Linked DNA regions of Homo sapiens: region 1 is linked to region 2. Evidence: fine-mapped expression QTL. A gene starts in region 2. The other region holds a variant in brackets. All regions are shown on one strand. Distances are between the middles of the regions.

Region 1 (15,686 bases), 33 kb after region 2:
ACATGCTGGTCCCACGCCAGTGCTTCTCCCTCAACTATGACCTAAACTGTGACAAGCTGTGTGCTGACTTCCAGGAAGACATTGAGTTCCATTTCTCTCTCGGATGGACCATGCTGGTGAATAGGTTCCTGGGCCCCAAGAACAGCCGTCGGGCCTTGATGGGCTACAATGACCAGGCAAGCAAAGTTCCTCACCTCAAGGGCATTGTGGGGGGTCAGTCTGTACCCTGCCTCCAGACACGGGAACCATTCTAAAACGGGGGTTCCCTAAGGTCAGCAGCTGTGGTGGTGTGCCCCACCACACAGTACACCACAGACAGAATTTTTGCTACTGATTGACCTGGATTTGTTCTAAGCAGTGATATTTGTGAAATGACAGATGCTAGTATTTTTCTCTAATACACATTAAAGTAAGTATGTAACTATTAAAAATAGACGACTTTAAAAATAACCACCTACATACGACTATTTTAAAGTTCAGATTTTAAAAACATTCATCTCTAAACCACTTGAGTTGTCACATGTACTGCCCTCTGTACACATCCCACACTCGGGGAAGCTGCCAGGCGGGTCAGGATGGCTCCTGCTCACATTTTGCACGTCCCGTGGTGCTCACCTGAGGGTCTCCTCTGCTACATCTGAAGCTAGTTGTCCCCTTTTTGCCTTTTGGAAATTGAAGAGCCACTCTGTGTCCCTGTTCCCCAGACTAGGGCAACACTGAGGGTTCACGTGAATGAGAGACTCAATACGTCCCCCTCACCCCTCTCATGTTTCTCTCCTCAGGTCCAGCGTCCCATCCCTCTGACGCCAGCCAACCCCAGCATGCCCCCACTGCCACAGGGCTCGCTCACCCAGGAGGAGTTCATGGTTTCCATGGTTACCGGCCTGGCCTCCTTGACATCCAGGACCTCCATGGGCATTCTTGTTGTTGGAGGAGTGGTCAGTGACCAGTTCTGCTCGGGAAGGTGGGGGCGGAGGGCAGGTGGGCGGGGCCTGAGGGCTAGGTTCCTGCTGTGGCCCCTGCATTGGGCCACACTCCACAGTCCACTGCATACTTTCTCCTCTGTGATTGCATGGGGAGCGCTTACTCCCTCACCAAGTTTCCCTCACTTCCTGCTGGACATGGTCCCAGACCTTCTGGCCTCGGTGGGATCAAAGGAGACATTGAAAGAGGAACTCAGAGTAGAAACATGAAGGCTCCTTGGCTGGGGCCCTTCAGATGGCCCTGGTAGTGATGGGCCCCAGAGGAGGGTGGGCCACAGAGAGGCTGCACTCCAGGCTGACCATGTGCTCTGCAGGTGTGGAAGGCAGTGGGCTGGCGGCTCATTGCCCTCTCCTTTGGGCTCTATGGCCTCCTCTACGTCTATGAGCGTCTGACCTGGACCACCAAGGCCAAGGAGAGGGCCTTCAAGCGCCAGTTTGTGGAGCATGCCAGCGAGAAGCTGCAGCTTGTCATCAGCTACACTGGCTCCAACTGCAGCCACCAAGTCCAGCAGTGAGTGGCCCTGTCGGACCCCAGCAGGGGACTTCCTTTAGGCAGGGTCAGCCCCATCTCCCTTCCCCATCTCTCTTCCCACGTGGCCTGGAAGCCACTGGGTCCTAAGCATCGTAGACCCTGGGCCTTCAGGTGTGCAGGGCCAGCTTTGAGGCCAGTCATGGGGAGAGGGGTCTCCCAGGGACACTTTGCGTCTTGGGCTGGGACGGGGTAGGCCTCTGGGCCCCTTGGTGAGGAAGAAATGGGAAGGCAAGAGATATTCCTAGTAGGAGTTTTAGAGGTTGCCTTGAAGAGCTTGGGCTGTGGATGTAGTTTTGAAGTTTTTGAACCCAGCCTGATCTTCGTGCACATCTTAGGTCAGGTGGGAATCTATTGCCTAATCTGGGGTGGTGGGGATGAATATCCTCGCTTCCTTTTTTTTATTGTGTGTGGCAGACCCTTTGCTCTAGACATTTTGCACCTAATTATTTCTCTGACTCTTGGAGGTAGATGTTGTCTTATAGCCATCTCCTTTTTCTTTCTTTCTTTTTTTTTTAATTGATCATTCTTGGGTGTTTTGGCAGGGTCATAGGACAATAGTGGAGGGAAGGTCAGCAGATAAACAAGTGAACAAAGGTCTCTGGTTTTCCTAGGCAGAGGACCCTGGGGCCTTCCGCAGTGTTTGTGTCCCTGGGTACTTGAGATTAGGGAGTGGTGATGACTCTTGACAAGCATGCTGCCTTCAAGCATCTGTTTAACAAAGCACACCTTGCACCGCCCTTAATCCATTTAACCCTGAGTGGACACAGCACATGTTTCAGAGAGCACCAGGTTGGGGGTAAGGTCATAGATCAACAGCATCCCAAGGCAGAAGAATTTTTCTTAGTACAGAACAAAATGGAGTCTCCTATGTCTACTTCTTTCTACACAGACACAGCAACAATCTGATTTCTCTATCTTTTCCCCACATTTCCCCCTTTTCTATTCGACAAAACCGCCATCGTCACCATGGCCCGTTCTCAATGAGCTGTTGGGTACACCTCCCAGACGGGGTGGTGGCCGGGCAGAGGGGCTCCTCACTTCCCAGAAGGGGTGGTTGGGCAGAGGCGCCCCCCACCTCCCGGATGGGGCGGCGGCCGGGCGGAGGCGCCCCCACCTCCCTCCCGGACGGGGTGGCTGGCCGGGCGGGGGCTGACCCCCCCCACCTCCCTCCCGGACGGGGCGGCTGGCCGGGCGGGGACTGACCCCCCACCTCCCGGACGGGGCGGCTGCTAGGCGGAGACGCTTACTTCCCAGACGGGGGCGGCTGCCTGGCGGAGGGGCTCCTCACTTCTCAGACGGGGCGGCTGCCGGGCAGAGACGCTCCTCACCTCCTAGACGGGGTTGTGGCTGGGCAGAGGCGCTCCTCACATCCCAGACGGGGTGGTGGGGCAGAGGCGCTCCCCACTTCCTAGATGGGATGGCGGCCGGGAAGAGGTGCTCCTCACTTCCCAGAGTGGGCAGCCGGGCAGAGGGGCTCCTCACATCCCAGACGATGGGCGGCCAGGCAGAGACGCTCCTCACTTCTCAGACGGGGTGGCGGCCGGGCAGAGGCTGCAATCTCGGCACTTTGGGAGGCCAAGGCAGGCGGCTGGGAGGTGGAGGTTGTAGCGAGCTGAGATCATGCCACTGCCTGGGCAACATTGAGCACTGAGTGAACGAGACTCCATCTGCAATCCCGGCACCTCGGGAGGCCGAGGCTGGCAGATCACTGCCGGTTAGGAGCTGGAGACCAGCGCGGCCAACACAGCGAAACCCCATCTCCACCAAAAAAATACGAAAACCAGTCAGGCGTGGCGGCGCGCGCCTGCAGTCGCAGGCACTGGGCAGGTTGAGGCAGGAGAATCAGGCAGGGAGGTTGCAGTGAGCAGAGATGGCGGCAGTACAGTCCAGCTTCGGCTCGGCATCAGAGGGAGACCGTGGAAAGAGAGGGAGAGGGAGACCGTGGGGAGAGGGAGAGGGAGCGGGAGAGGGAGAGGGCCATCTCCTTTTTCAAAATCAAGAAACTGAGATTTGAAAAATAGTGACGTGTCCTCTGCTACTCGGCTGATGAGCAGCAGAGTCAGGATCTCTTGTGCCCAAACCAGGGTGCACAGCTCTGTGCTGTTGCTTCTCAGGCCGTGGTGATGCTGAGTGTGTTTGGTTGTTATGATTATTCAGTCTCAGCAGGGTGTAGGAGATTCTGCCAAACCAGGCCTGGCTCAGGGCAGAGCTGCTGGCAGGGATATAGACAGGCCCAGCTGCTCCCTACTGTGGGTGGGCTAAGCCACCAGTGGCATCTTGCTCCACACACCCCAACTGGGTCCCTTCTCTCTCCTCCCCAGGGAACTGTCTGGGACCTTTGCTCATCTGTGTCAGCAAGTTGACGTCACCCGGGAGAACCTGGAGCAGGAAATTGCCGCCATGAACAAGAAAATTGAGGTTCTTGACTCACTTCAGAGCAAAGCAAAGCTGCTCAGGTGAGGCTGGCCCGTGTGGCCAAAGGTTAGGGCTCCAGGGTGCAGCCCAGGCACACTGGGGCTCAGCTGCTGGGCTTGCGTCTTGGGTGTGGACACAAATTTTTCTGGTGGGGATTTAGCTCATTCGTGTTAGATGTGTACCATGGGCTGGGCACGGTGGCTGACGCCTATAATCCCAGCACTTTGGGAGGCTGAGGCAGGTAGATCACCTGAGGTCAGGAGTTTGAGACTAGCCTGACCAACATGGTGAAACCCCGTCTCTACTAAAAATACAAAGATTAGCTGGTCGTGGTGGTGTGTGCTTGTAATCCCAGCCACTCGACAGGCTGAGGCAGGAGAATGGCTTGAACCCAGAAGGCGGAGGTTGCAGTGAGCCGAGATTATGCCATTGCACTCCAGCCTGGGCGACAAGAGCAAAACTCTGTCTCAAAAAGAAAAAAAAAATGGATGTGTACCACGTACCTCATGGATGCCAGATGGTGCTGGAGGCTCAACAAGACACAGCGTCGCTGCCTTCAAGGCACTTGCAGTTGAAGGCATGATGGCATCACAGTACTGCGAGACTGCAGTTCACAGCGCCCTGTGCTGAACCGCAGGGCCTACAGCGCTTAACATGTGCTATTTCACTCAGTCTTCCCTATTTCTCCATTTTCTACATAGAAATGTTGGGGAACTTGTCTGGCATCTCAAAAAATGGCCAGGCTAGGAGGGGAGCCCAGGTGTACTTGGCTCCAGCAGCCCCCGCACTCTGATTCTCCTTACCTGCCACTCTTTGGACCCATGAAGAGGGCATAGCCCCCCATTTACCCACAGAGAAGCTGGTTACTTGGCTGGGGACTGGCAGAGCTGGGATTGGAACTCAGATCTCCATGGGGTCTCTGTGGAGCTTTCATTAATAATTTGCTGGAAAGAACATCAGTCTGAGGAGTCTGGAGTCCTGGGTTCTCTCCAGCCACTCATGTTTGGCCCAAGCTCTTAACTCTCCTGTGTCTCATTATTTTCATCTGTAAAATGGGAGTAAGATTTCATGACACAGCTGCATGACTGAATGTAAAAGTGCCCTGCAAAAGTCCTCGGCCTGCCCAGCTCATGATAACATCAGCACACGGGGACCCTGCAGAAGTCCTCGGCCTGCCTAGCCCATGATAGCATCAGCACACGGGGACCCTGCACTTCCTGCCCTCGCCCCTGACGTCAGAGTCTGCAGGGTGGCAGAGCCAGAGGGGAGATGGATCAGAGGGTGTCAGCTCCAACCCTCACCGGATCACTGGGCTTTCCCTGCCCTCGACTGCGGATGTGCCCCCCCCGCACCCCCACCTGGGGACAGCTGCTTCCTAGGGACACACTGCTTGCCCTCTGGGGACTCTCAGAAAGGGGGAATGGGGGGAACTGCTGCTTGTCAGCCACAGTGACACAGCTGAACCTGGAAAGGGTCTCCTGTCAGCACCTCAACCCCTTGCTTGGCAAGCAGGGAAACTGAGTTCCCGACAGCTCAGGGACTTGCACATGGTCCTGGGTGAAGGAAACACAGGGCTTGAGAATCAGAAAAGCCTAACTTGTAGCTCCCTGGCTTATTAGCCGTGTGGCCTTGGGAAGTTATTTAACCCCTCTGGGCCTCCTTTTCCCCATCTGTGAGACAGGGATAAACACGATTGTTGGAGGATGATGTAAGGGTGTGTGTCAAGCGTCCTTAGGATGGTGCCTGGCGGGTAGTCCTAATACTGCCTATCATCAGCTATCATGGTTACAAAAGAACCATTTCTTTGCAGGAATAAAGCCGGTTGGTTGGACAGTGAGCTCAACATGTTCACACACCAGTACCTGCAGCCCAGCAGATAGTGGGCACCTGAGGCGGAGTCTGCGTGGAGAGGGGCGGTGCTGCCAGCCCTAAGTGCCATGTGGGCTCCCCCAGGGGCACGTGTGGCTCCTGCCCCCTGGCCACTGCCAAGAGAATGAAGCACCCAGTCTCGTACCATTTTGAGCCCTCCAGCACTACTTATTTTCCCCCACCTTTGCCTGCTGTTGCTGGAAGAGCTGGCTCATACCCCCAAAGGACACTTTCAGCGACAGCTATGGACAGCATGGTACCAAGGAGTTAAGTTGAGGCTTTTTCCAGCTTTCTCTGGTTCATTTGATTGCTTGATAAGGCCTCAGGATCTCAGCATTGCACAATGCCTCATGGAAGCCTTTGAGGGTATCACACAGACACCCCCACCTTCCTCCAGCCTGTGCGCACCTGCCCTCCTTGCAGCCCAGCACACCTGCAGGTGTAAGGGACGATTGGAGTTTCTTCCCAGAGAGTCTGTCCCAGAAGGACTGTGGCTTGTGTGTGTCCATCTCGCCTGTTGGCTCAGTGCTTCATCCCATTTGCAGAGCCTCAGACACGTCTTGGTGGTGAGGCTCAGTTACCCCTGGGCTTAGGCTGAGGCGGGCCCTGTGCTGGGGGTGGTAGAAAGGATGCTGCTGAGGCAGCTGGAGGAGTGGGAGTAGCTCAGAGGGGAGGGCTGTTGGATGTATGGGGAGCTGGCAGAGCAGGTGGCAGTCACTGGGACAAGGAGGGACTTGCCTCTCTTCTCATTATTGTGTCCTTTGCTTTAGTGTCAGTCCTGGACTTGTGCAGGCCTGTTTTGTGTAGATCTGTTTTGGAAGATGGCATGGTCTAGGTGGTTGAAGGATGTAGTAGAAGGATGGATGGTGGAAGGTGGGGACGTTGGTGGCTGGCTGAGGTGCATGG[G/C]CCCCACACAGGACAGCTGGAGAATGGGCCGTCCACTTGGCCTCGTTCTGCGAGGGGCTCATGGGTCTGAGAGCCCCCACCCACTAGGCTTGATTGCATCCCTGTTGTGCCCTTTAAGAGACATGTTTCCACCCCACCCCCAACCTTGTCCCAAGTGCCCTGGACTAAATTTCCTGTGCCAGTGACTGCAGTTGGCCAAGGGACAATGTGGAAAACCCAGTGTCCATCTTTCCACCCTCCCTGATCTCCAGAACCTTCGACTGACCCCCTTGTCTTTATGCTGATGTTGAGTTTTGGGATTGTTACTGGTTGAAGTGGGGGCAGATGCCTGTCACCAAGGTGTTGACTGTGTGAGAAAAGCAGTTTGGGTGACAAATCCTGTGTGGCACAAGTTGGATCGCTTCCTAGAAATAAGCAACACCTCTCCCAAAAAGCAGCCCACAAGGCAGGGGCCCAGCAGCCCAGCCATCACTCATCTTTGAGGAAATGAGTTGGTAGCCTCTGTGCACTGTTTGGTGGCCACATCACAGGTGATGTCCTGTTCACATACCTGCTTGTATTTAAAGCCCTCAGTCTGTCCTGTTGTGTGGGGCGAAGTGATGGACTCTGCCAGGTGGACATGCTGTGGGTGGATGTTCCCGGCGTGTGCCGGGCCTGAATGGACAGGGGCCACTTCACAGCATGTCAGGGAAAATCACTGTCACACAATTCCAATGGATTTTGTGCTCTTTTTGAAAAAAAAAAATTCTTTAGCGTAAACATGAATTTTTTTTCAATGTAGCCCCTGGGGAATGAATGAAATTTTGAGCTTCTTCAATACGTAAAATTAAATTTATACCACTGAGGGAGAGACCCTTTCTGAAAGAAGTATGGCCAAAAGCACTTTAATGCTGCTGACATTGTTGTTTTTATGTTCATTTGCTGGAGCGCAAGACGTGCTGACACAGTGAGTTTTCTCTGATGTATTTAAGGTGATGTATTTGCTTGAGTTACTCCTGTATCATTGCTCATAATATTGGAAACTAAAATAAAACCTAGTTGGAAATCCTTTGTGAGATCTGTCTTTTTGGGTTCTTGTACAAACTCCTCTTTGACATGGCCAGCTGTATTCTGAAGTGACCATAACTTTGGGGAAGTTCCCACTATAATCTGGCTCCTTATTCTTGGAAGGAATTTGATACTCTCAAAAGAACAGATGGTTTAACTGATCTTTAAGGATCAGGAAATCGAGACTGATTTCTTTACAGATTTCTCTGTAACTCCAGACCATTTTTCACTTAAAAAGTAAATGACTCACTGTTCCATCCTGCTTTGCCTTCTGAGAATTTGGTTGCCACTATTCTTTTTTTTTTTTTTCTTTTTTGAGATGGAGTCACGCTCTGTCGCCCAGGCTGGAGTGCAGTGGCACGATCTCGGCTCGCTGCAAGCTCCGCCTCCCGGGTTCAAGCAGTTCTCTGCCTCAGCCTCCCAAGCAGCTGGGATTACAGGCGCCGACCACCAGGCCTGGCTAATTTTGGTATTTTAGTAGAGACAGGGTTTCATCATCTTGGCCATACTGGTCTCAAACTCCTGACCTTGTGACCCACCTGCCTCGGTCTCCCAAAGTGCTGGCATTACAGGTGTGAGCCACCGCTTTTTTTTCTTTTTTTTTTTAAGGGTCCTCAGGAGTAGATACAGGGGTAGTCAGTCAGTTTCCCCGCCCCTACAGCTGTCCTCTTGGCTCTGGTGCTGCCCAGTGTCCGCCCTGCTCGCCCACAGAGGCCACAGCTCAGCTGATAGCAACCTCATCCTTCCAGATTCCCAGGCTACACACTTGGGGCATCACCCTCGAGTCCACGGTCACACGTGCTGCACCAAATCTGTCACCTGCTGTCTTCCAAGTCTGTTGACCCTGCCCAGTTTCCTCACCTCCATCATAACCATCAGCCCGGATCTAGGTTCCTGTTCCTGCCTTGTCCCCGCCTATCCTCGCCATCTTGTGGCTGTTTCAAGGCAGCAGCCAAAGACTTTCTCAGGTAACAAAAAAAAAATGAATCATTACCTTTTTTTTTTTTGCAATCCACAAAACAAGTAGTTTCTGTCATTAACAAGATGTTATGTACAACCCACTAAATTGTTCACGACAGCATCATCCCGGGTGATGAGCCATAGTTTGAAAAAGGGCCTTCTTGCCTTATGCAAATGCTGCTTAGTTATTCCCAGTCAAGGCCAGCCTCATTCCTGTGCTTTCTCTGACTACCTCATCTGTCCACTGGCGAATCTGAGAGGCTGGAAGTTTTAGCCCTCTGGTAACAATGTCCCTATTTAATCACAAAAAGTAGGTAGTCAGGAATGTTCCACTGTGTCCCAAGCACTGGGGTGACAGCCCAGGCAGCTCTCTCGGAGAGCATCTGGCTTCATAATGTGGCCTCAGAAGCAGGGCCCTCCTCGCAGATGTCAGCTAAGTTGTTCACCGTGTCCTCAAGTGGATGGTTTCCTGTGTCTAAGTGGGACTCTTAGGCTTGAGATAAGAACAGCGAACTTTGAGAGTTTAGTATGTCAGACATTTCATACGCATGAGCCCTAATCTCAAAATCCAATGGTCTATTTTCCCTAATTTCCTCAAATGAGGAAGTTCATTAATTCAGCAAAATATTTGTGCACTTACTATGTGCTAAGCATGGTTCTAAGCACTGGAGATATAGCAGTGACTAAGGTGGATAAAAATCTGCCCCTGGGGCCAGACGCGATGGCTCACGCCTGTAATCCCAACACTTTTGGGAGGTGGGCGGATCACGAGGTCAGGAGTTCAAGACCAGCCTGGCCAACATGGTGAAACCCCATCTCTACTAGAAATACAAAAATTAGCCAGGCTTGGTGGCGTGCACCTGTAATCCCAGATACTAGGGTGGCTGAGGCAGGAGAATTGCTTAAACCTGGGAGGTGGGGGTTGCAATGAGCCGAGATCACGCCATTGCGCTCCAGCCTGGCAACAGAGGGAGGCTCCCTCTCAAAACAACAACAACAACAACAAAAATCTCACTCACTGATTAGTAACCTTTTTCAGTTACAAAGAAAAACAACATACTCGCTAAACTCCCTAACATCAGGAGCCATCAGGCAAATTATCTCAAGTCTTGATTTACAAACCAAACCCTTATGCCTCTGATTACACAGGGGACCGGTCTGACAAACTTTTTTTTTTTTTTTGAGGTAGGTTTTTGTTGGCTGGAGTGCAGTGGCGCAATCACGGCTCACTGCAGACTTGACCTCCCAGACTCAAGTGATCCTCTCACCTTAGCCTCCCGAATAGCTGGGATTAAAAGTGTGCGCCACCATGCCCGGATAATTTTTTGTTTTTTTGTAGAGACGAGGGATCTCACTATGTTACTCAGGCTGGTTTCGAACTCCTGATCTCAAATGATCCTCACACCTTGGCCTCCCAAAGTGCTGGGATTATAGGTGTGAGCCACCATGTCTGGACACAAATATTCTTTTTCTTTTTTTAATTTAATTTTTCAAATAGAGAATGTATGTTGGCTGGGCACAGTGCCTCATGCCTGTAATCCCAGCACTTTGGGAGGCTGAGGTGAGAGGATCGCTTGAATTCATGAGTTTGAGACCAGCCTGGGCAATCTGGCAAAACCCTGTCTCTACAAAAAATACAAAAATTAGCCCAGCATGGTGGTGTGCACTGGTAGTCCCAGCTATTCCGGGGGCTGAGGTAGGAGAATCACTTGAACCCAGGAGGTGGAGGCTGCAGTGAGCCGAGATTGCATCACTGCACTCCAACCTAGGCAACAGAATGAGACCCCGTCTCAAAAAAAAAAAAAAAAAATAGATGGGATCTTACTGTGTTGCCCAGGCTGGCCTCTAATTCCCAAGCTCAAGTGATCCTCCTGCCCCAGCCTCCCAGAGTGCCGGAACTACAGGCATGAGCCATCACACCCAGCCAATAAACATTCTTTTCTGATAAGCAACTGCAGAACTTAAGCCAGTTTCAGCCAGCTTACAGAAGCTGTGAACAACCTGTTTAGCCAATGCACATGAGCTCACCTCCTCTCATAAATATGTATACAGCTTTTCCCTCAAACCTGCTAAATATGTATGAATATGGGCCCTGTGAGGCATAAAACCCAACCTGTCCTTTCTCTCTTGGAAGAGAGCACCTTCAGTGCATGCTGCAAACCATCTCTTCCTGGTTTGCAAACAAGTATCAACAATAAAGTGCTCCTTTCTACTATTTAGCCACCCTGGTGATCTTCTAGACAACATTATGCGTATTTCTGCTAGGAACATTAGTGTTCAAATCTCTGTGTAGGCAGATGTTTTCATTTTTTGTAGGTAGATATCTCAGGCTGGACTTGCTGGGCCATATGGTAAATTTATGTTTAACTTCTACAGATTTTGTGAAGTGGTTATACTGTCTTATATCCCCACCAGTAGTGAATGTGGGTTCATATATATATATAGTTTTTTTTTTTTTTTTTTTTGAGACAGTCTTACTCTGTCACCCAGGCTGGAGTGCCGTGGCACAATCGCGGCTCACTGCAACCTCCGCCTCCCAGGTTCAAGCCATTCTCCTGCCTCAGCCTCTCGAGTAGCTGGGATTACAGGTGCCCACCACCACACCCGGCTAATTTTTTTCTATTTTTAATAGAGACGGGGTTTCACCATGTTAGCCAGGCTGGTTTCAAATTCCTGACCTCAACTGATCCGCCCGCCTTGGCCTCCCAAAGTGCTGGGATTACAGGCCTGAGACGTCGTGCCCGGCCTCATTTCATTTTTTAGAGCATCACAAACTACCTCTCCAGCTCATCTTGCTAGAGTTACTGCATAATCCATGCATTCCTGCCAAGGATCAGCCATCTTCTTGAGTCGGAGGGCTTCCTGCTAGCTCGGTGCCTGGTGTTATCACCCTCGGCTCTTCTGGAGGTAGAGGGGCTACCTATCTTCTTTTCATTCTTTTTTTTTTTTTTTTTTAATTTGAGACAGAGTTTCACTCTTGTTGCCCAGGCTGGAGTGCAATGGTGCGATTTTGGCTCACCACGACCTCCGCCTCCCGGGTTCAAGCGATTCTCCTGCCTCAGCCTCCCGAGCAGCTGGGATTACAGGTATGCGCCACCATGCCCGGCTAATTTTGTATTTTTAGTAGAGACGGGGTTTCTCCATGTTGGTCAGGCTGGTCTGGAACTCCCGACCTCAGGTGATCCGCCTGCCTGGACCTCCCAAAGTGCTGGGATTACAGACGTAAGCCACCGCGCCCAGCCAATTTTTGTATTTTTAGTAGAGACGGGGTTTCGCCATGTTGCCCAAGCTGATCTTGAACTCCTGACCTCAGGTGATCCACCCGCCTCGGCCTCCCAAAGTGCTGGGATTACAGGCGTGGGCCACTGCGCCCGGCCCCAGTTTTTCTAAGTTATATAGTTTAGGTTTCACAACTAGATCTATGATCCATTCTAGGTTAATTTTTGCATATGGGTTTCTTTTTTTTTTTTTTAGGATGAGTGTGTGGATATCCAATTATACCTACAACATTTGTTGAAGACACCATCTCTTCTTGTTTTCCCAAGTTTCCACACACATTATTGATAAAATAAATTTTTTTGGGGGGGGTGCTGGGTGTCGCTGGGCTGTAACTCCTTACCTCAAGCCATCTGCCCACCTCGGCATCCCAAAGCGCTGGGATTACAGGCGTGAGCCACCGCCCCGGGCCGAAGGCATTATCCTTTCTCCACTGAATTGCACTTTCATTTTTGTCAAAAATTAATTGCTCACATATCGGAACTCTATTCTGTTGCATTGATCCATTTGTCTACCTGGACGCCAATACCACACTTTCTTTCTTTTTTAAATTAATTTATTTATTGAGACAGGGTCTCTCAGTCAGGGTGGAGTGCAGTGGTGCAATCAAAGCTCACCACAGCCTCAGCCTCTTGGACTCAGGTGATCCTCCCATCTCAGCCTCCCGAGTAGCTGGACTACAGGTACGTGCCTGGCTCATTTTTTGTAGAGACGGGGTTTTGCCATGTTGCCCAGGCTGGGTATCTTTTTTTTTTTTTTCTTTTTTGAGATGGAGTCTTGCGTCTTGCTCTGTCATCCAGGCTGGAGTGCAGTGGCGCGATCTCGGTTCACTGCAATCTCTGCCTCCCTAGTAGCTGGGTTCAAGCGATTCTCCTGCCTCAGCCTCCCTAGTAGCTGGGATTACAGGCGCCGGCCACCTCGCCCGGCTAATTTTTGTATTTTTAGGTTTACTGGCGTGAGCAACCGCGGCCGGCCCCAATACTACACTTTCTTGTTTACTGTGTAGTCCTTATCTTCTGGCGCAAAGCGGGCACTCGCTAAAAACCTGAATGAAAGTATAAAGCAGGCCGGGCGCAGTGGCTCATGCCTGTAATCCCAGCATTTTGGGAGGCCGGGGCGGGCGGATCACGAGGTCAGGAGTTCGAGACCAGCCTGGCCAACATAGTGAAACCCTGTCTCTACTAAAAATACAAAAAAAAAAAAAAAAAAAAAAAAAAAAAAAAAAAAAGCCGGGCATGGTGGCGCTCGCCTGTAGTCCCAGCTACTCGGGAGGCTGAGGCAGGAGAATCAATCGCTTGAACTCGGGAGGCAGAGATTGTGGTGAGCCGAGATCGCGCCACTGCACTCCAGCCTGGGCAACAGAGTGAGACTCCGTCTCCAAAAAAAAAAAAAAAAAGAAAAGTATGAAACGATGAGTACAATGAGTAGCCAGCCGCCTGCCCCACCTACCCCGCCGCTCCGGACTGCCGCCTGCGCCGAGCCTAGGCCGCCCAGCCTGACTGAAACTGCCGCTGCTGAACTCAGCGTATCCAGTCCCGCAGCTGACCAATCGGAGCTCGCCCTTCCGGGGCCCGCCCCATTCCAGGAATCGACCTCCGCACCGGCCTCGAAAATTGACCAATCGGTTGTGTAGCTCCGCTCTTAGTCCCGCCCCCACGCTGAAACTGACACTTCGGATCGCCGAGTAACGCTCACCAGACGTCCCGGCCCTGCCCCTCACCTGACCAATCAAGACGGCCGGCCGAGGCCCCTGGAACGGCTCAGGCGGCTGCGGCTGCTACGGCGGCGCATGCTAGGGGATTCTGCCGGGTGAGTGCTGGGCGGCAGGACTGGGGTGGGGCGGAAGGGCTCGGCAGGAGGCCCCACGTGCATTCCCGCGAGGGGCTCGGGGGCCGCAGTGGAAAAGAAGGGTAGGCTGCATCTGCCTCTGCGGGGGTCCCGCCTCGGCGTCCGCCCGCTCGCCCTCTGTTACTTCTGCGGCCCCGGTGTTTCTGGAGCGTCGCTTTCCCGGTGTCTCCGCTCAGCTTTTCCCTTTCCAAAGCGCGGCCGGGGCCAGGGGAGGGCAAGGCCTGCTGTGCCCTTTGACCCCGTGCGAAAACGGCGACCCTCTGACTATAGGGGTGTGGCCCAGAGCCACTTGGCCAGTTAGGGGTGGGGGCCGGGATCTTTGTCCTGCGGATCAAACAGTTGGCCCCTCTGGACTGCATCTCCGTGCCCCCCGGCCCTGCGGGGTAATATACGTGTGTGGGGGAGGTTCCGGGGTAGTCGGCTACTCTGTGCTCCAGACCTTGCACCCGATCCTGAGGATCCTTGGAGGTGGGGGGCAAGGGCTGGGAGGAGGAGGCGGAGTTTTCCCAGGCTCCCCCACACTTCCAGGGAAAGGCTTTCCAAGAACCCTGAACTCATGGACCCTGGAGTCAAATTTTGGTTCAGATCTAGCCTCTTGCTAGCTGTGTGACTTGGGGCAAGTTGCTTAACTTCCCTGAGCTTTGGTTTCTTCATATGTAAAAAGAAAGTGAAGGAGGAAGGGAGGGCAGGAAAGGAGGAAGAATCCCTTTTGAAGCCTGATTTGTGTTGGACTCACCAGTTATAAAGCAAGCTTGTCCAAACCACTGCCCAGGAGGCGGAGGTTGCAGTGAGCCAAGAAAAAAAGGAAGCATGCCCTTGCCCCAGCCATTTTGGTAATAATAGACGTTTATTGAATGCTTACTGTATACCACTGTAAGCACTGTATTAAGTAAGCACTGTACTGAGTGCTTTGTTTTTTGTATTTTGTGTGTGTGTGTGACAGTCTTGCTCTGTCACCCAGGCTGGAGTGCAGTAGTGTGATCTCCACTCACTACAACCTCCGCCTCCCAGGTTCAAGCGATTCTCCTGCCTCAGCAGCCTCCTGAGTAGCTGGGATTACTGGCGCCCACCACCACACCCGGCTAATTGTTTGTTGTTGTTGCTGTTTTTGAGACGGAGTCTCACCCTGTCGCCCAGGCTGGAGCGCAATGGTGCGATCTCGGCTCACCGCAACCTCTGCCTCCCGGGTTCAGGTGATTCTCCTGCCTCAGCCTCCCGAGTAGCTGGGATTACAGGCGCGTGCCACCACGCCCGGCTAATTTTTGCATTTTTAGTAGCGACGAGGTCTCTCGCCACGTTGGCTAGGCTCATCTCAAACTCCTGACCTCAGGTGATCCTCCTGCCTCAGCCTCCCAAAGTGCTGGGATTACAGACGTGAGCCACTTGGCCTGTTTTTTGTTTTTTTTACAGTGATGCAACCATGGCTCACTGCAGCCTGGGTCTCCTGGGCTAAAGCTATCCTCCTGAGTAGCTGGGGCCACAGACAAGTGCCACCATGGCCAGCTAATTAAATTTTTTTTTGGCCAGGCACTGTAGCTCATGCCTGTAATCCCAGCACTTTGGGAGACCGAGGCAGGCGGATCACAAGGTCATGAGATCGAGACCATCCTGGCTAACACGGTGAAACCCCGTCTCTACTAAAAATACAAAAAATTAGCTGGGCGTGGTGGCAGGCGCCTGTAGTCCCAGCTACTCAGGAGGCTGAGGCAGGAGAATGGCGTGAACCCGGGAGGCGGAGCTTGCAGTGAGCCGAGATTGCGCCACTGCACTCCAGCCTGGGCGACAGAGCAAGACTCCATCTCAAAAAAAAAAAACAAAAAAACAAAACAAAAAAAAATGTTTCTACAAAT
Region 2 (15,686 bases):
TCCCCTCTGTCCATACATTTTTGTTGAGAACCTTTTCTGTGCCAGGTAGTTGCAGGCACTCGAGCATAGAGCCCCATGTAGACCTGGCCCCTGTAAGCTGACCTGCAGCAGGCCAGACCAGGCCCCATGTGTGCACCCTCCTCTCCTGGCCTTTGTGTCCTCCTTAACTAACACGGGCTCTCTTGTCCCCCTGCCTTGGTACAGGCCCAGTTTGACCTGGCCTTTGTCGTCCGCTACAAGCCTGATGAGCAGCCCTCACTGATGCCACACCATGATGCCTCCACCTTCACCATCAACATCGCCCTGAACCGAGTCGGGGTGGATTACGAGGTGAGCAGGAGCCAGCCGGGGTCAAGGGGCCGGCAATGGGGATGAGGAGGGCTAGCTGAGGAGAGGCTTCAGGGTGGTTGAGGCAGAGGGGCCCCAGGTAACCAGTGCCAGAGAACCAGAAAAAAAAGGATGTGGGTCTGTGGGAGGGCTTCCTGGAAGGGTTCACAGTCTAGCAGGAGGAGGGGCCAGGCTCTTAAGCTACTATTTTAAGAGATTTTTGGGCTCGGCATGGTGGCTGATGCCTGCAATCCCAGCAGTTTGGGAGGCCAAGGCAGGCAGATCACTTGGGGCCAGGAGTTTGAGACCAGCCTGGCCAACATGGCGAAACCCCATTTCCACTAAAAATAGAAAAATTAGCTGGGCGTGGTAGCACACACCTGTAATCTTAGCTACCCAGAAGGCTGAGGCATGAGAATCTCTTGAACCCAAGAGGTGGAGGTTGCAGTGAGCTGAGATCATGCCACTGCACTCCAGCCTGGGCAACAGAGCGAGACTCTGTCTCCAAAAAAAACAAAAAGAGGTTTTTTGAACTTAGCCCTGGGCTGGGTGCTGTGGAGAACACTCATAAAAACAGCTATAATCCTTTTTTTTTTCTTTTTCGAGACAGGGTCTTGCTCTGTCACCCAGGCTGGAGTGTAGTGGCATGATCACAGTTCACTGCAGCCTCAACCTCCTGGGCCCAAGCAATCCTCCCACCTCAGCCCCCCCAAGTAGTTGGGACCACAGGCGTGTGCCACCATGGCCAGCTAATTTTTTTTCTTGCTTTTAGAGATGGGGTTTCACTATGTTGCCCAGGCTGGAGCTATAATTTTTTGAGAGCTTACAACAAACATATCAGGCATCCCTAATCCAAGGATTCTCAACCAGGAGCAACTGTGGCCTGCAAGGGACATTGGCAGTACCTGGAGACATAATTGGTTTTTACAACTATGAGGGGCTACTGGCATCTAGTGGGTAGAAGTCAGAGATGCCCGGGACAGCCTTCCACAGCAAAGTGTCTATAGTGGTGAGGTTGGGAAGCTTGATCCTCAGCTCTCAATTGTAACATCTCATTTAATTCTCACTATCCTGTTCTGTTTAACCCTCATTTTACAGAAGGGGAAACTGAAGCTCAGGTTGGTCACAGTTAGTAAAGAGTGGAGGTGATGTCTGCCCAGGGCTGCCTGACTCCAAGGACAGAGCTCTTGATCACTTACTCTTTGGGTTTTTTTTTTTTTGAGACAGTCTCATTCTGTTGCCCAGGCTGGAGTACAGTGGCGCGATCTCGGCTCACTGCCTCCTGGGTTCAAGTGATTCTGTCTCAGCTTCCCGAATAGCTGGGATTACAGGCGTGCGCTGCTACACCCAGCTGGTTTTTGTATTTTTAGTAGAGATGGGGTCTCACCATGTTGGCCATGCTGGTCTTGAACTCCTGACCTCAGGTGGTCCACCCGCCTTGGCCTGCCAAAGTGCTGGGATTACAGGCGTGAGCCACCACTCCTGGCCACTACTCTTCATTTAGTGTCTTCCTTAGCAGCGCTTGTGGCTGTCACTCCAGAAGGCATCCCCAGGCAGGCAGTGCTGAGGGCCACTTGGCCATGACAGGAGATCATGACGGGAGAACAGACGGGCAGGGGGGCGGTGGGGAAAGGCCACTGATGCTTTCTGTCTCCCAGGGCGGGGGCTGTCGGTTCCTGCGCTACAACTGTTCCATCCGAGCCCCAAGGAAGGGCTGGACCCTCATGCACCCTGGACGACTCACGCATTACCATGAGGGGCTCCCCACCACCAGGGGCACCCGCTACATCGCAGTCTCCTTCGTCGATCCCTAATTGGCCAGGCCTGACCCTCTTGGACCTTTCTTCTTTGCCGACAACCACTGCCCAGCAGCCTCTGGGACCTCGGGGTCCCAGGGAACCCAGTCCAGCCTCCTGGCTGTTGACTTCCCATTGCTCTTGGAGCCACCAATCAAAGAGATTCAAAGAGATTCCTGCAGGCCAGAGGCGGAACACACCTTTATGGCTGGGGCTCTCCGTGGTGTTCTGGACCCAGCCCCTGGAGACACCATTCACTTTTACTGCTTTGTAGTGACTCGTGCTCTCCAACCTGTCTTCCTGAAAAACCAAGGCCCCCTTCCCCCACCTCTTCCATGGGGTGAGACTTGAGCAGAACAGGGGCTTCCCCAAGTTGCCCAGAAAGACTGTCTGGGTGAGAAGCCATGGCCAGAGCTTCTCCCAGGCACAGGTGTTGCACCAGGGACTTCTGCTTCAAGTTTTGGGGTAAAGACACCTGGATCAGACTCCAAGGGCTGCCCTGAGTCTGGGACTTCTGCCTCCATGGCTGGTCATGAGAGCAAACCGTAGTCCCCTGGAGACAGCGACTCCAGAGAACCTCTTGGGAGACAGAAGAGGCATCTGTGCACAGCTCGATCTTCTACTTGCCTGTGGGGAGGGGAGTGACAGGTCCACACACCACACTGGGTCACCCTGTCCTGGATGCCTCTGAAGAGAGGGACAGACCGTCAGAAACTGGAGAGTTTCTATTAAAGGTCATTTAAACCACTGAAGGGAAGATGCTCAGGGCGAGTGGGTGTGTGTGTGTCTTGGTGTGAGTGTCTGCAGGGAGAGAGGTTTTAAGAGCCCTCTTTTTTTTTTTTTTTCTTTTTTTGAGACAGAGTCTCACTCTGTCTTCCAGGCTGGAGTGCAATGACGCTATCCCCGCTTTCTGCAACCCCCGCCTCCTGGGTTCAAGTAATTCTCCTGCCTCAGCCTTCCGAGCAGCTGGGGCTACAGGCACCCATCACCACGCCTGGCTAATTTTTGTTTTTTTATTAAAGAAAGGGTTTCACCAGGTTGGTCTGGCTGGTCTTGAACTCCTGACCTCAGATGATCCACCCACCTCGGCCTCCCAAAGTGCTGGGATTACAGGCATGAGCCACCGTGCCCGGCCAAGAGCCCTCTTTTTAGAGCCTTTAAGAAAGGTCATGCTAGCCTCTCGACCCCTGAGTAGCTGGGATTATAGGTATCCATGCCTGACACATTTTTGTATTTTTTGTAGAAACGGGGTTTCATTTCACCGTGTTGGCCAGGCTGGTCTCGAACTCCTGACCTCAGGTGATCCATCCGCCTCGGCCTCCCAAAGTACTGGATTACAGGCGTGAGCCACCATCCCAGGCCTGAAAGTCTTTTAAAAAAGATTTTTGAGGCCAGGCACAGTGGCTCACACCTGTAATCCCAGCACTTAGGCTGAGGCAGGCGGATTACCTGAGGTCAGGAGTTTGAGACCAGCCTGGGCAACGTGGCGAAACCCTGTCTCTACTAATAATATGAAAAAATCAGCCGGTTGTGTTGGCATGCGCCTGTAATCCCAGCTACTCGGGAGGCTGAGGCAGGAGAATCGCTTGAACCCAGGTGGTGGAGGTTGCAATGAGCCAAGATTGGGCCACTGCACTCCAGTCTGGGTGACAGAGCAAGACTCCATCTCAATTAAAAAAAAAAAAAGATTTTTTAGTCTTTTCATTTTCAAAATTGACTCATTGTAAATTCAAACAGCACAAATCTTAATCTTTCTGTCATCCTTTCCCCCCAGCTGCTCAGTTCCTCTCTCTGAAAGCCACCATGTCTAATCTGTTTTTTGAACGTTCTTGAGCTGGTTTGTGCCGACACAAGCCTGTGTGTGTGTTTGTGTATGTTAGGGTTATTTTTGTTTTTGTTTTTGAGATGGAGTCTCACTCTGTCGCCCAGGCTGGAGTGCAATGGCATGATCTCGGCTCACTGCAACCTCTGCCTCCCGGGTTCAAGCAATTCTCGTGCCTCAGCTTCCCGAGTAGCTGGGATTACAGGCACCCGCCACCACGCCCAGCTAGTTTTTGTATTTTTAGTAGATATGAGGTTTCACCATGTTGGCCACGGTGGTCTCCAACTCCTGACCTCAGATGATCCACCTGCCTCGGCCTCCCAAAGTGCTGGCATTACAGGTGTGAGCCACTGTGCCCGGCATAGGGTTGTTTTTAACTGTTAACTTTTTTCTGATTACAAACTCATCTTCACCATGAAAAAGTCAAACAAAATAGGTAACATGGGGGGCCGGATGCTGTGGCTCACATCTGTAATCCCAGTACTTTGGGAGGCTGAGGCGGGTGGATCACTTGTGGTCAAGAGTTTGAGACCAGCCTGGCCAACATGGCAAAACCCCCATCTCTACAAAAAAATACAAAAATTAGCCAGGTGTGGTGGCAGGTGCCTGTAATCCCAGCTACTTGGGAGGCTGAGCTGGGAGAATCACTTGAACCTGGGAGGTGGAGGTTGCAGTGAGCCAAGATTGCACCACTACACTCCAGCGTGGGTGACAGAGCAATAACCTGTCAACAACAACAACAACAAAAAGTAATATGGACCGGGTGCAGTGGCTCATGCCTGTAATCCCAGCGCTTTGGGAGGCTGAGGTGGTAGGATCACTTGAGGCCAGGAATTCTCAACCAGCATGGCCAACATGGCAAAACCCTGTCTCTATTAAAAATACAAAAATAAGGTGGGCTTTATGGCACATGCCTGTAAACCCAACTACTCAGGAGGCTGCAGCACGAGAATCGCTTGAACCCGGGAGGCAGAGGTTGTAGTGAGTTGAGATTGTGCCACTGCACTCCAGCCTGGGTGAGAGAGCAAGACTCTTGTCTTAAAAAAAAAAACAAAAACGTAAGAAAGAAAGGTCTCCTGGAGTTGTACATCAGTGTGCTCTGCACCCATTCCCAATAACACTCAGCACTGCTAGGAGAGTTTTGTCATCCCGAGGGTTGAAACGAGGATTCAGCCATCTCAATGAGAAACACATGTTAATGGGTTGAAACATATCTCCAAACTGAGATTTCCTCTACTTGCTGGGCAAGTATGCAGATGTGTTTCAGAGATAAAGCCCAGCTGCTGGGCAGAGTACAAGACTAAATGCCTGGGAATGGATTCAGAGGTTCCTACAGCAGTCCAGGCAAGTGACCAGGACCTAGACCAATGCTTGCAGGGAAATTTAGGGAAGAGGAGGGAGTGGGCAGGGGAGATGTTTAGGAGAGAGAACATCCAGGCTTTCACCTGACGGGCAAGATTCTGCTAAAAAGGAAAAGGAAGGCTGGGCGTGGTGGCTCACACCTGTAATCCCAGCACTTTGGGAGGCTGAGGCGGGTGGATCACCTGAGGTCAGGAGTTTGAGACCAGCCTGGCCAACATGGTGAAACCCCATCTCTACTAAAAATACAAAAATTAGCCAGGCATGGTGGTGCACGCCTGTAATCCCAGCTAGTGGGGAGACTGAGGCGGGAGAATTGCCTGAGGCGGAGGTTGCGGTGAGCCAAGATGGTGCCACTGAGCTCCAGTCTGGGCAACAGAGTGAGAGCGAGACTCTTTCTCAAAAAAAAAGAAAAAAAAAAAAAAAGAGGAAATGGAATTTATAGTTCCTGCCCTCAGAGAATGGAAGTGGAATTTAGAGTTCCTCTCCTTAGGGAGTCCAGAGATTGTGGAGGAGGAAACAATCCGACCCAGTACCAGGCAGCTAGCAGCTGAGGCCCCAAGGCACGCTACATCCCAGACAGGGCCCTGTCTACACCCTGAGGCTGAGTCTGCGTGTGGCCCCACAGTCCACAGTCAGACCCGCGGGGCACTAGGCTACTCAGAGGGCAGTGTGGGCAGGACAGCTCCCTTTGGCCATCGTCATGAGACTGATAAACCAGTCACTTCTATATCAGAGTACTGATTTGCCTCTTGAGGTTGTTTGTGGCAATAAATTGAGGTTGTTCTACCATGGTTATAGAGCAGCACCATCCCACAGAATTACAGTTTGACCCACAAATGCAAGCTACTTATGTAATTTTAAATTTTCTAGTAGCGACATTTTTAAAAAGAAACAGGTGCAATTAATCTTAGTAATGTATTTAACCCAAATGACCCAAAATATTATCACTTCAACATGTAGTCAGCATATAAATAGTAATGGGCTAATAGCCCTGCACTGTGGCAGGTACCTGTAACCCGGCATTTTGGGAAGCCGAGGCAGGAGAAGATTGCTTGACTCCAGGAGTCCAGGAGTTCAGGACACCAGCCTGGGTAACAAAGTGAAATGCTTCCCCATGTCTACAAAAGATAAATACTAGGCATGGCTGCAGCATCTGTGGTCAGCTACTTGGGAGGCTGAGTGAGGTGGGAGGATTACTTGAGCCCAGGAGTTCGAGGCTGCAGTGAGCCGTGATTGCACCACTGCACTCCAGCTTGAGTGAGAGTGAGACTCTGGCTCAAAGATAGATTTTTTTTTTCTTTTTTGAGACGGAGTCTCTGTTGCCCAGGCTGGAGTGCAGTGGCATGATCTCGGCTCACTGCAACCTCCACCGCCCGTGTTCAAGCGATTCTCCTGCCTCTTCCTCCCGAGTGCACTATCATGCCTGGCTAATTTTTGTATTTTTAGTACAGACGGGGTTTCACCATGTTGGCCAGGCTGGTCTTGAACTCCCGATGCACCCGCCTCGCCCTCCTAAAATGCTGGAATTACAGGCTTGAGCCACCGCGCCCGGTCGATATTTTTTTTTCCTAAAAATTGAGATAGTTTAACAGCCTTTTTTGTCCTAAGTCTTATAGCGCATCTCCGTTTGCACTGGCTCAGGACTCGAGAGCCACACGTGGCTAGTGCCTACTGTTCTGGCGCGCTCAGGCTTGGAGCCTTCTCTGCGGAGGCCAAGTCCTGCAAGGGATCTGTTTGCTGCGGTTTCCTAGTAGTGTCTGCCGCATCACTGGGGCCCGGTGATCTGGGTAACCATGTGAGCTTGGGTAACCTCTCCTCTCCCTCTCCTGGGACTGCTGTGGACGTTAAATACAGCGGTGGATGTTAGAGACGCAGTTCAGTCACTGGCATTGATTCGCCGTTGTTGCTGCTCTTCTTTCCTCAAAGGCGACTGAAGGGCAGCAGGCCCATGCTCGCTTCTGTCTGCCCGATGAGTCACTTCACCCTAGGCCTGGCCCTCTAGAGAACACTCCTCTAAGATTACAGAATGCAAATCTGGATTCCAGAGCTGGCAGAGGCCCCAGGGTCAGGCTCTAGGACAACCGGCGAAAAAGCGGGAACCTCTACTCCACGCCCTTGGTTTTTCGCCCCTTGACAGCTTGAGGCTCCGCCCCGCTTTGCCCCGCCCCCCCAGCTCCGGCCGACGCCCACCGGAACTACAGCCCCCATGATGCAGTGGGAGTCCGAGCCTCTGCGTCGTCCGCTTGGGACGCGCCGGCGGAGGAGTGGCGCGCGGAGGAGTGGCGCGCTGAGACGCCGCTCGAAGCGCCGAGTCGCGGGGCAGCAGAGGCGTAAGGAGTAGGCGGGGCGAGCCGGCTGGGCTCAGGGTCCACCAGCTCACCCGGGTCGAGGGGCAATCTGAGGCGACTGGTGACGCGCTTATCCACTTCCCTCCTCCCGCCTCCCCCTGGGGTGGCGCTCGCTGGTGACGTAGTGAGTGTGATGGCCGCCGCGAGGCCGGGAAGGTGAAGGTGAGAGGGCGAGCAAGCCGGGGTGGCGGGGACTGGCCCGGCCCGGCCCGGCGAGTCCTGAGCAGCTCGGCGTGGGCCGACGGGATTCTGGGGCCACGGGGGTCTGGGATGCAGTCAAGCGGGGTCCCCACTCTCCGGCCTCGCCGCCGGGCCCTCCCCGGCCCTGAGAGGAGGGGGCGGGCCACGGGACCTGGGACTGGTCGGTGGGGTCCCCTGTAGCTTCTCATCGCCCCCGCCTTTCCACCCTTCACGGCCATGTTCTACCCCTGCCCCTTCTCTATTTTTCATCCTGTCTTCATTTTGCCAGCATTTACTCAGCACCTGATAGGTGTCCACGTTCACCGCGGGAGCGCCCTGCCATCCCCACTTTGGGCAGTTACTGCCTTCTCGTTCAGCCCTGTTTACTTATATGACTTCTCACCGGACTGTAAGGCCCTGGAGGGCAGGACTGTTTCTTATCCATTTCTAACGTGGCGCCTGACACACACAGAGAAGGCACACAGAAAATGTTGAATAAATAGCTGTTAAGACGCACGAAGGCAGAACTGCCCGTTACCCCCTCTCGTAATCCTTCATTGCCCTCTTTAAATTCTCAATCATCTCTCTCTCTTCTACCCAGAAAAGGGCTCTGGTTATCTCTTTTCTACCCAGAAAAGGGCTCTGGTTATCCGCCTCTGGTGTCCCAAGGTTTGGGGCTTGGGGGAGGAAGGCAGCTCAATGTAGTTAAAAAAGGAAGGAGGCCGGTCGCAGTGGATCACACCTGTAATCCCAGCACTTTGGGAGGCTGAGGCGGGCGGATCACCTGAGGTCAGGAGTTGGAGACCAGCCTGGCCAACATGGTGAAACCCCGTCTGTGCTAAAACCAAAAACTAGCCGGGCTTGCTGGCACACGCCTGTAATCCCATCTACTCAGGAGGCTGAGGCAGGAGAATCGCTTGAACCCGGGAGGCGGAGGTTGAGCCGAGATCGCGCTGCTGCACTCCAGGAGCTTTGGAGTCAAAGGGAGCTAATATTTCAGATCCCAGCTTAGACAAATCTTCAAGTATTCCAGCCCTCTGTCCCACAGAATAGAGAATTAAGTGAGATACTTTACAGTAGCTGAACACATTGGCTTTCAGTCAGTTCTTCTGTTCCTCAATAGTCAGCTGTTCCACAGTCCTCAAGCCCAGTTTTGTTCCTAGTTTTGCTCTGTCCTCTTCTCCCCTCTCTGGATGTACCTTTCCCAGGGCTCCTGCAGGGACCTCCGTGGTGCCTCAAACCCGCACATGGCGGAATACGTGTGCACAGTCAGGATTGGTCCCACACCTCTGCGTTTTTTTCCCCAGGGCACTTCCTCACATGCCAGCGCAACTCCCCAATACCTCAATGAGTAAGCTTCCCTCAGGGATGAGTTTGTTTGGCTTGAAACCTGATTAGACATGTTTTGTACACCAGTGTTTTTTTTTTTTGGACACCGGATCCATCTCCCTTTTCTTTTCTAATAAGTCAGGACTGGTGGAGTCAACACAGTCAATCAATAGCCAACCTCAACCTGAGACAGGACAGAAGAGAACTCAGAATCTTTTTGTCTTTTGGACTTCAGCCATGTCCATGATGCCTACCCTGTGAAGATCTCTCACCATCCAAAAAAGTAAGTAGTAGCTGTGACTTCTGGCACCCTGGATTTGAGCTGAGTGGACAGGGGTGTGCTCTCCTGGACCTCTGGTGGCAAGTCTCTTGAATGGCATCCTCTTTGTATAGAGCCACAGCTTTCTAACTTGTGTTGAAAAACTACCGTATCTTTTACTTCCGTGAAGGATTTCGCTGGTTGCTTAGAGAGCCTGTTTAAAAGTTGACAGTTCAGAAGTGGCTGGGATCTCTTGGGCTCCCTGAAGAGTTAGTCTCTGTCTCCCTCATTTGGTCTCTGCTGTGCTGGCTCTTCCCCATCTCGGCCCAGCACAGGTTGGCTCCTTGTCACTGCTCTTTTAAGACTCTGCTCTGTCCCCTTTACCCTGTATACTCTTTTTGTTTCGATTTCTCAGCTTCTCCTCTTTTCCAGTTGTGCCAGCAGACGATCCGTGGATCCATTTTATTTTCCCTGCTAGGAGTTGCTGTACATAACACTGGGTAAGGAGGTGGTGTGGATTCAGGGACTGTGCTTGGGATCCAAACACACCTTGCAGTGAATTTTGCTACTGCTGTCTCTACACCCAAGATACCTAATACTCCTCAACGAATAGCCTAGGTTGAGGCAAAGCTGTTGACCACCTTGGAGGGCTAATAGCAGTTTCCATTTAGAACTGGGTTCATTTCTGGTCTTAGGTTAATATTTATTAATACTGTGCCCTGGCACTTTTTAGGGGTAGGGGCAGGAGAGTACCAGAAAGAGTGGGCTTTTCCCTAAAGTGTGATCCTCGGGATTTTAAAAGCTATTACACAGAAGGGTTTTTTCATTGATTATATTTGTGAAATGCTGAATTCAACACAGTTAAACTAGTGTCTTTACAACAAGGCTTCCTTCCCAAACTCTTTTGCTGTGCTCACGTGCTCCACTGAGGAAAATGGTAGCATATGGTGTTTTTTGTTTGTTTGTTTGTTTTTTGTTTTTTTTGAGACAGAGTCTTGCTCTGTCACCCAGGCTGGAGTGCAGTGGCGCGATCTTGCAGTGGCGTGATCTTGGCTCACTGCAAGCTCTGCCTCCCAGGTTCACACTATCCTCCTGCCTCAGCCTCCCGAGTAGCTGTACTACAGGTGCATGCTGCCATGCCTGGCTAATTTTTTGTAGTTTTAGTAGAGATGGGGTTTCACCGTGTTAGCCAGGATGGTCTCGAACTCCTGACCTTGTGATCTACCCACCTCGGCCTCCCAGAGTGCTGGGATTACAGGCGTGAGCCACCGCGCCTGGCCTAGCATATGGTGTTTTACAAACTGATTCTACTATTGAACCTTCTTTACATGGGATATTGGGTGCAAGTCGAGTTCTGTGGACCACGCTTTGGGAAGTGCTGCCAGAAACTATCCAAAACAGTAATCTCCAGAGCACTTATGAGGCAGTCACAGCTTGAAGTGTGACGCTTAGTGTGTCACTGATGTTGGAGCTGGGCTCTCAGGCTATGCTTGCAGGATGGTCCCCACGTGCCTGTGGCAAGGTCTGTGGTGAAGCAGAGATTATCAAGGCTTTCCAGAGGCAGAGGAGGAACCCAGCTGCCCTGCATCACCCTGGAGGAGTAGGGAGTCAGCAGTCAAAGCCTTGAGATAATTGGGGAACACAGGATGTGATAAAAACCAGAAGTCTGTGATGTTGTTTGTTCTCTATGAGGCATCAGAGGAGGCTTCATGGAGCGGGTGACACTTGAGTTGGGTCTAGAAGGACAGTAGGAGTATGCCAAATGGGTGGAAAAGGAAGGAGGATTCCAGGCAGAAAGCAGCTCATGCAACACAGATGTGGAATCTCAGCTTGCAAGTTAGCAGAGCCAGATAAATCAGGCAGAGTTTGGAGGGGTTGACAGTAGGTTTTACGCCAGGGGTTTGGATGCAGCTGCAGGCTGGGTATTAGTGAGAGCAGGGAGGCTCCTGGACCGGCTGAACTCCCAGCAGACCTTGTAACCTGGAGCTCCCAAGCTTCTACTGGTGTACACGCTGTCGAGTCTTGCAGTTAGTGAGCACTAATGCTTTTGGTTTTATATCTCCTGGGCTTGCAAACATTGACCAGAACTTAAAAGCACCTGCTTCTGATGGCAGGGAACTTGCTTCCTGCAGCAAGTCACTTCTGGAGTGGGGTATCGCTGATCCTTCCCCAGCTGACCTGTTTATTTGATCTCCGTGATAGCGGGTAAGGGAGTGGTGTGTGTGGTGTGAGTTGGCGGAGTTGCCTCTGCCCTCCCTGAAGGCTGGGTGTTCATGGAGAGAGTCTTGTGATCTTGCTGGTAGAGTTTGTTGTTATTGTTTTATAACATGTAAAGCTGCCTTTAGCTCTTACTGTAGTGAAGCATGTTGCTTGCGTCATCAACTTTAGTCTTCTCACAGTTTAGATGGTATTGTGGTATTAGGATATTGGTTTTCATCCACGGATCCAGGCTCATAACTCCTATCCACAGCCCTTGTTATGGTTTTTTGATATAATGTTAGATGTGTTAGGCCTCAGGGGCAGGCCTCTGACCTTCTGCTCTCCTTCCACCCTAATCTTTCCCCACCTGATTGTGGGCCTTAAAACCCTCCCCTGAGAGGGGTGGACCCTGTATCCTGGGGGAAGGAATGCTGATGTCATGAAGCTTCCATAAAAATCCAAGAGGACAGAGTTCAGGGAGCTTGTGGATAGCTGAACACACGGAGGTTCCTAGAGAGAGGCCTGCTCAGGGAGGGCACAGAAACTACACGCCTCTTCCCCCATACCTCGCCCTAAGCGTCTCCTTATCTGTATCCTTTGCGATATCCCTCATAATAACCTGGTAAACGTAAGTAAGTGTTTCCCTGGGCTAGGTAGGCTGCTCCATCAAATTAATTGAACTCAAAGAGGGGGTCATGGGAACCCCAGCCTGAAGCCAGTCGGTGAGAAATTCTGGAGGCCCAGACTTGCAACTGGTATGTTTGAGGGGTGGTGGTGGAGAGGCGGGGCAGTCCTGGGGACTGAGCCCTCAACCTGTGGGATCTGACACTCTCTCCAGGTAGACAGCATGGGAACTGAATGAGAGGATACCCAGCTGCTGTCCGCTGGTTGGTGTGTGGGGAAGAAACCCCCTCACATTTGGTCACAGAAGTCTCTTGTGTTGATGATTATGGTGTGAGAGTAGAGAAAAAAGATAATTTGAGACAGTTTCTCTCTCCAGTAGGTGTCTTGTTTGTTGTACACATGAAGAAACCAAGGTTCTGTGATGAAATAACTTGCTTAAGTTTAAGCAGCCCAGAAATAATGTAGTCACAATTTGAACCCAGCTCTGCCTGATTACAAAACCTGTCATAGGTAGTGCTATATCATGCCCCATCCTTGATCCCTTTTTTTTTTTTTTTTTTTTTTTTTTTAAAGAGAGAGACTTCGCTCTGTCACCCAGGCTGGAGTACAGTGGCGAGATCTTGGCTCACTGCAAATTCTACCTCCCAGGTTCAAGTGATTCTCCTGCCTTGGCCTCTGGAGTAGCTGGGACTACAGGCATGCGCCACCACACCCAGCTAATTTTTTGTATTTTTCATAGAGACGGGGTTTCACCATGTTGGCTAGACTGGTCTTGAACTCCTGACCTCAGGTGAGCTGCCTGCCTCGGCCTCCCAAAGTGCTGGGATTACAGGCATGAGCCACCGTGCCTGACCCCTGATCCCTTTTCTATTCCTTTTGGATGGCTTTCCTCTTGTGCCTGCCACATCCCCTCTTTCTCGAACAGTCTGATCTGCCAGGCCATGGCAAGCCTCATTTCAGCGCACTCTCCTTTGCTGCTTTGGAAGAGTGAGAGTAGCATTTTCTTTGCAGTTTCCTTTCTCAGAGCTGTACTGTCTTTAAGCCCTGGACATATGGCTTCCATGCTGAGAAAACATCTCTCATAGCTGTGGCGTCATGCTGAGGAGGAATGTAGAAACGGAAGTGGGGTCACTTCCTTCCCTTGTCTCCAGAGGAATCATTAACATTGCACAAGAACTTGTTGGTTTGGGCACACATGTGGGTCCCTATCCCGCTTTGGGTCGGTCTGTCTTCTGCCCACTCTTTGGGATGGTTAGTTACTAAAAGTCCGTTTTGGCATTTGGTCTTCATGTACCTCTTCCGGGTGTTCTTTCTGCTTTTCAGGACCTTGTGCAACATACTTTGGCCCCATTTGGAAGTTTTTCACGTGTGCTTGCTGGGGAGCAACACCTCATTTCCAATCTAGAGAGAGTGAGCTTACTGCTGGGTGGAGAACTGAGCAGTAAGATTAGGGTGGCTGGGGAGGCAGTGACAGACCCAGGCACAGTCAGCTGTGCACACACCCCCTCATCCAGGAGGGCCTTTGCCCTTTGACTTCCTGGGATTGGTGGGCTCTGCTCAAGAAGTAGCTTTCGCCGTGGTGGGAACTCTGAGGGACCTGGCAGGGGTCCACTTTTGGGGTCGGAATTCCCAGTCTTACCCTGGGCACTCCTTCTGGTGTGTACGCCTCTTTTTGATCTTTTTTTTTTTTTTTTTGAGATGGAGTCTTGCTCTATTGCTCAGGCTGGAGTGCAATGGCGCGATCTTAGCTCACTGCAACTTCCAGCTCCCAGGTTCAAGCAATTCTCGTGCCTCAGCCTCCCGAGTAGCTGGGATTACAGGTGCCTGCCACCATGCCTGGCTAATTTTTGTATTTTTAGCAGAGAAGGGGTTTCACCATGTTGGCCAGGCTGGTCTCAAGTGATCCACCCGCCTGGGCCTCCCAAAGTGCAGGGATTATAGGTGTGAGCCACCATGCCCAGCCTCTTTTGACCTTTGACCAAAGACCTCTAGGACTTTGGAGTCAAGTCTCATGACCTCTAAAATGTTGTTATATGAAAAGATAAGCTACAAAGATATGTAGGATTGAGTGAGAGCAAGAGAGACAGTCACACAAAAATAGACTGTGATAATATGGCTGGGTACGGTGGCTCACGCCTGTATTCCCAGCACTTCGGGAGGCCGAAGCAGATGGATCACTTGAGGTCAGGAGTTTGAGACCAGCCTGGCCAACATGGTGAAGCCCTGTCTACGAAAAATAAAAAAATTAGCTGGGTGTGGTGGTACATGCCCGTACTCCAAGCTACTCAGGAGGCTGAGTGAGGCAGGAGGATCGCTTGAACCTGGGAGGTGGAGGTTGTAGTGAGCTGAGATTGCACCACTGCACCCAGCCTGGGTGACAAAAGTGAGACTCTGTCTCAAAAAAAAAAAAAAAATTATAATAAACAAAATGTTGGGCCGGGCGTGGTGGCTCATGCCTGTAATCCCAGCACTTTCGGAGGACAAGGTGGGTGGATCATTTGAGGTCAGGAGTTCAAGACCTACCTGGCCAACATGGTGAAACCCCACCTCTACTGAAAATACAAAAATTAGCCGGGCATGGTGGCGAGTGCCTGTAGTCCCAGTTGCTTGGGAGGCTGAGGCAGGAGAATAGCTTGAACTCGGGAGGTGGTGGTTGCAGTGAGCCGAGATCATGCCACAGCACTCCAGCCTGAGCGATAGAGCAAGACTCTGTCTCAGAAAAAAAAAAAAAAAATGTTGGCTGGGCATGGTGGCTCACGCCTTTAATCCCAGCACTTTAATCCCAACACTTTGGGAATCCAAAGTGAGAGGATCATTGGAGCCCAAGAGTTTGGGAGCAGCCTGGGCAACATAAGAAGACCCTGTCTCTACAAAAAATTTTAAAAAAATTAGTGGGGCGTGGTGGTGCATGCCTGTGGTCTCATGTACTCAGGAGGCTGAGGTGGGAGGATTGCTTGGACCCAAGAGGTTGAGGCTGCAGTGAGCTGTGATTGCGCCACTGCACTCCAGCCCAGGTAACAGCGAGATCTTGTCTCAAAATAAAAAATAAATAAGTAAATAAAATGTTAACATTGCTTATCACAAAATGATGGGGTTATGGGTTTTTTTCCCCTTCAGTTTCCAAATTTTCTGTAGCACACCTGTGCTATACTAAAATAGACCAATAGTTTTTGTGTGTGTGTGTGTGTGTGTGTGTTTTTCTTTGTTGAGACTTGGTCTGGCTCTGTCACCCAGGCTGGAGTACAGTGGTGCGATCTCGGCTCACTGCAACCTCCGCCTCCCAGGTTCAAGCAATTCTCTGCCTCAGCCTCCCAAGTAGCTGGGATTATAGGCGGCCACCACCACACCCGGCTATATTTTTTTGTATTTTTAGTAGAGACGGGGTTTCATCATGTTGGCCAGGCTGGTCTTGAACTCCTGACCTTGTGATCCACTTGCCT

What was found.
Region 1: its variant is fine-mapped to the expression of MFN2 in whole blood (TOPMed, PIP above 0.99).

The regions. Positions count from the first base shown.
Region 1 is chr1:12,005,756-12,021,441 of GRCh38, forward strand. MFN2 (mitofusin 2) reads left to right here. Exons shown (of 19, transcript NM_014874.4): 15 at 1-176; 16 at 783-938; 17 at 1,298-1,494; 18 at 3,837-3,971; 19 at 5,741-7,753. The coding sequence ends at 5,810. It overlaps MIIP (migration and invasion inhibitory protein), which reads left to right and starts at 13,743. Exons shown (of 10, transcript NM_021933.4): 1 at 13,743-13,797. RefSeq lists a silencer at 1-52 and enhancers at 9-88, 99-198, 2,152-2,817, 2,818-3,482, 13,403-13,452 and 3 more. The variant G/C (reference allele first, on the strand shown) is at 6,706.
Region 2 is chr1:11,972,668-11,988,353 of GRCh38, forward strand. MFN2 (mitofusin 2) reads left to right here and starts at 7,777. Exons shown (of 19, transcript NM_014874.4): 1 at 7,777-7,817; 2 at 9,303-9,447. It overlaps PLOD1 (procollagen-lysine,2-oxoglutarate 5-dioxygenase 1), which reads left to right. Exons shown (of 19, transcript NM_000302.4): 18 at 205-330; 19 at 1,986-2,870. The coding sequence ends at 2,141. RefSeq lists silencers at 7,393-7,652, 7,823-8,062 and an enhancer at 9,519-9,618.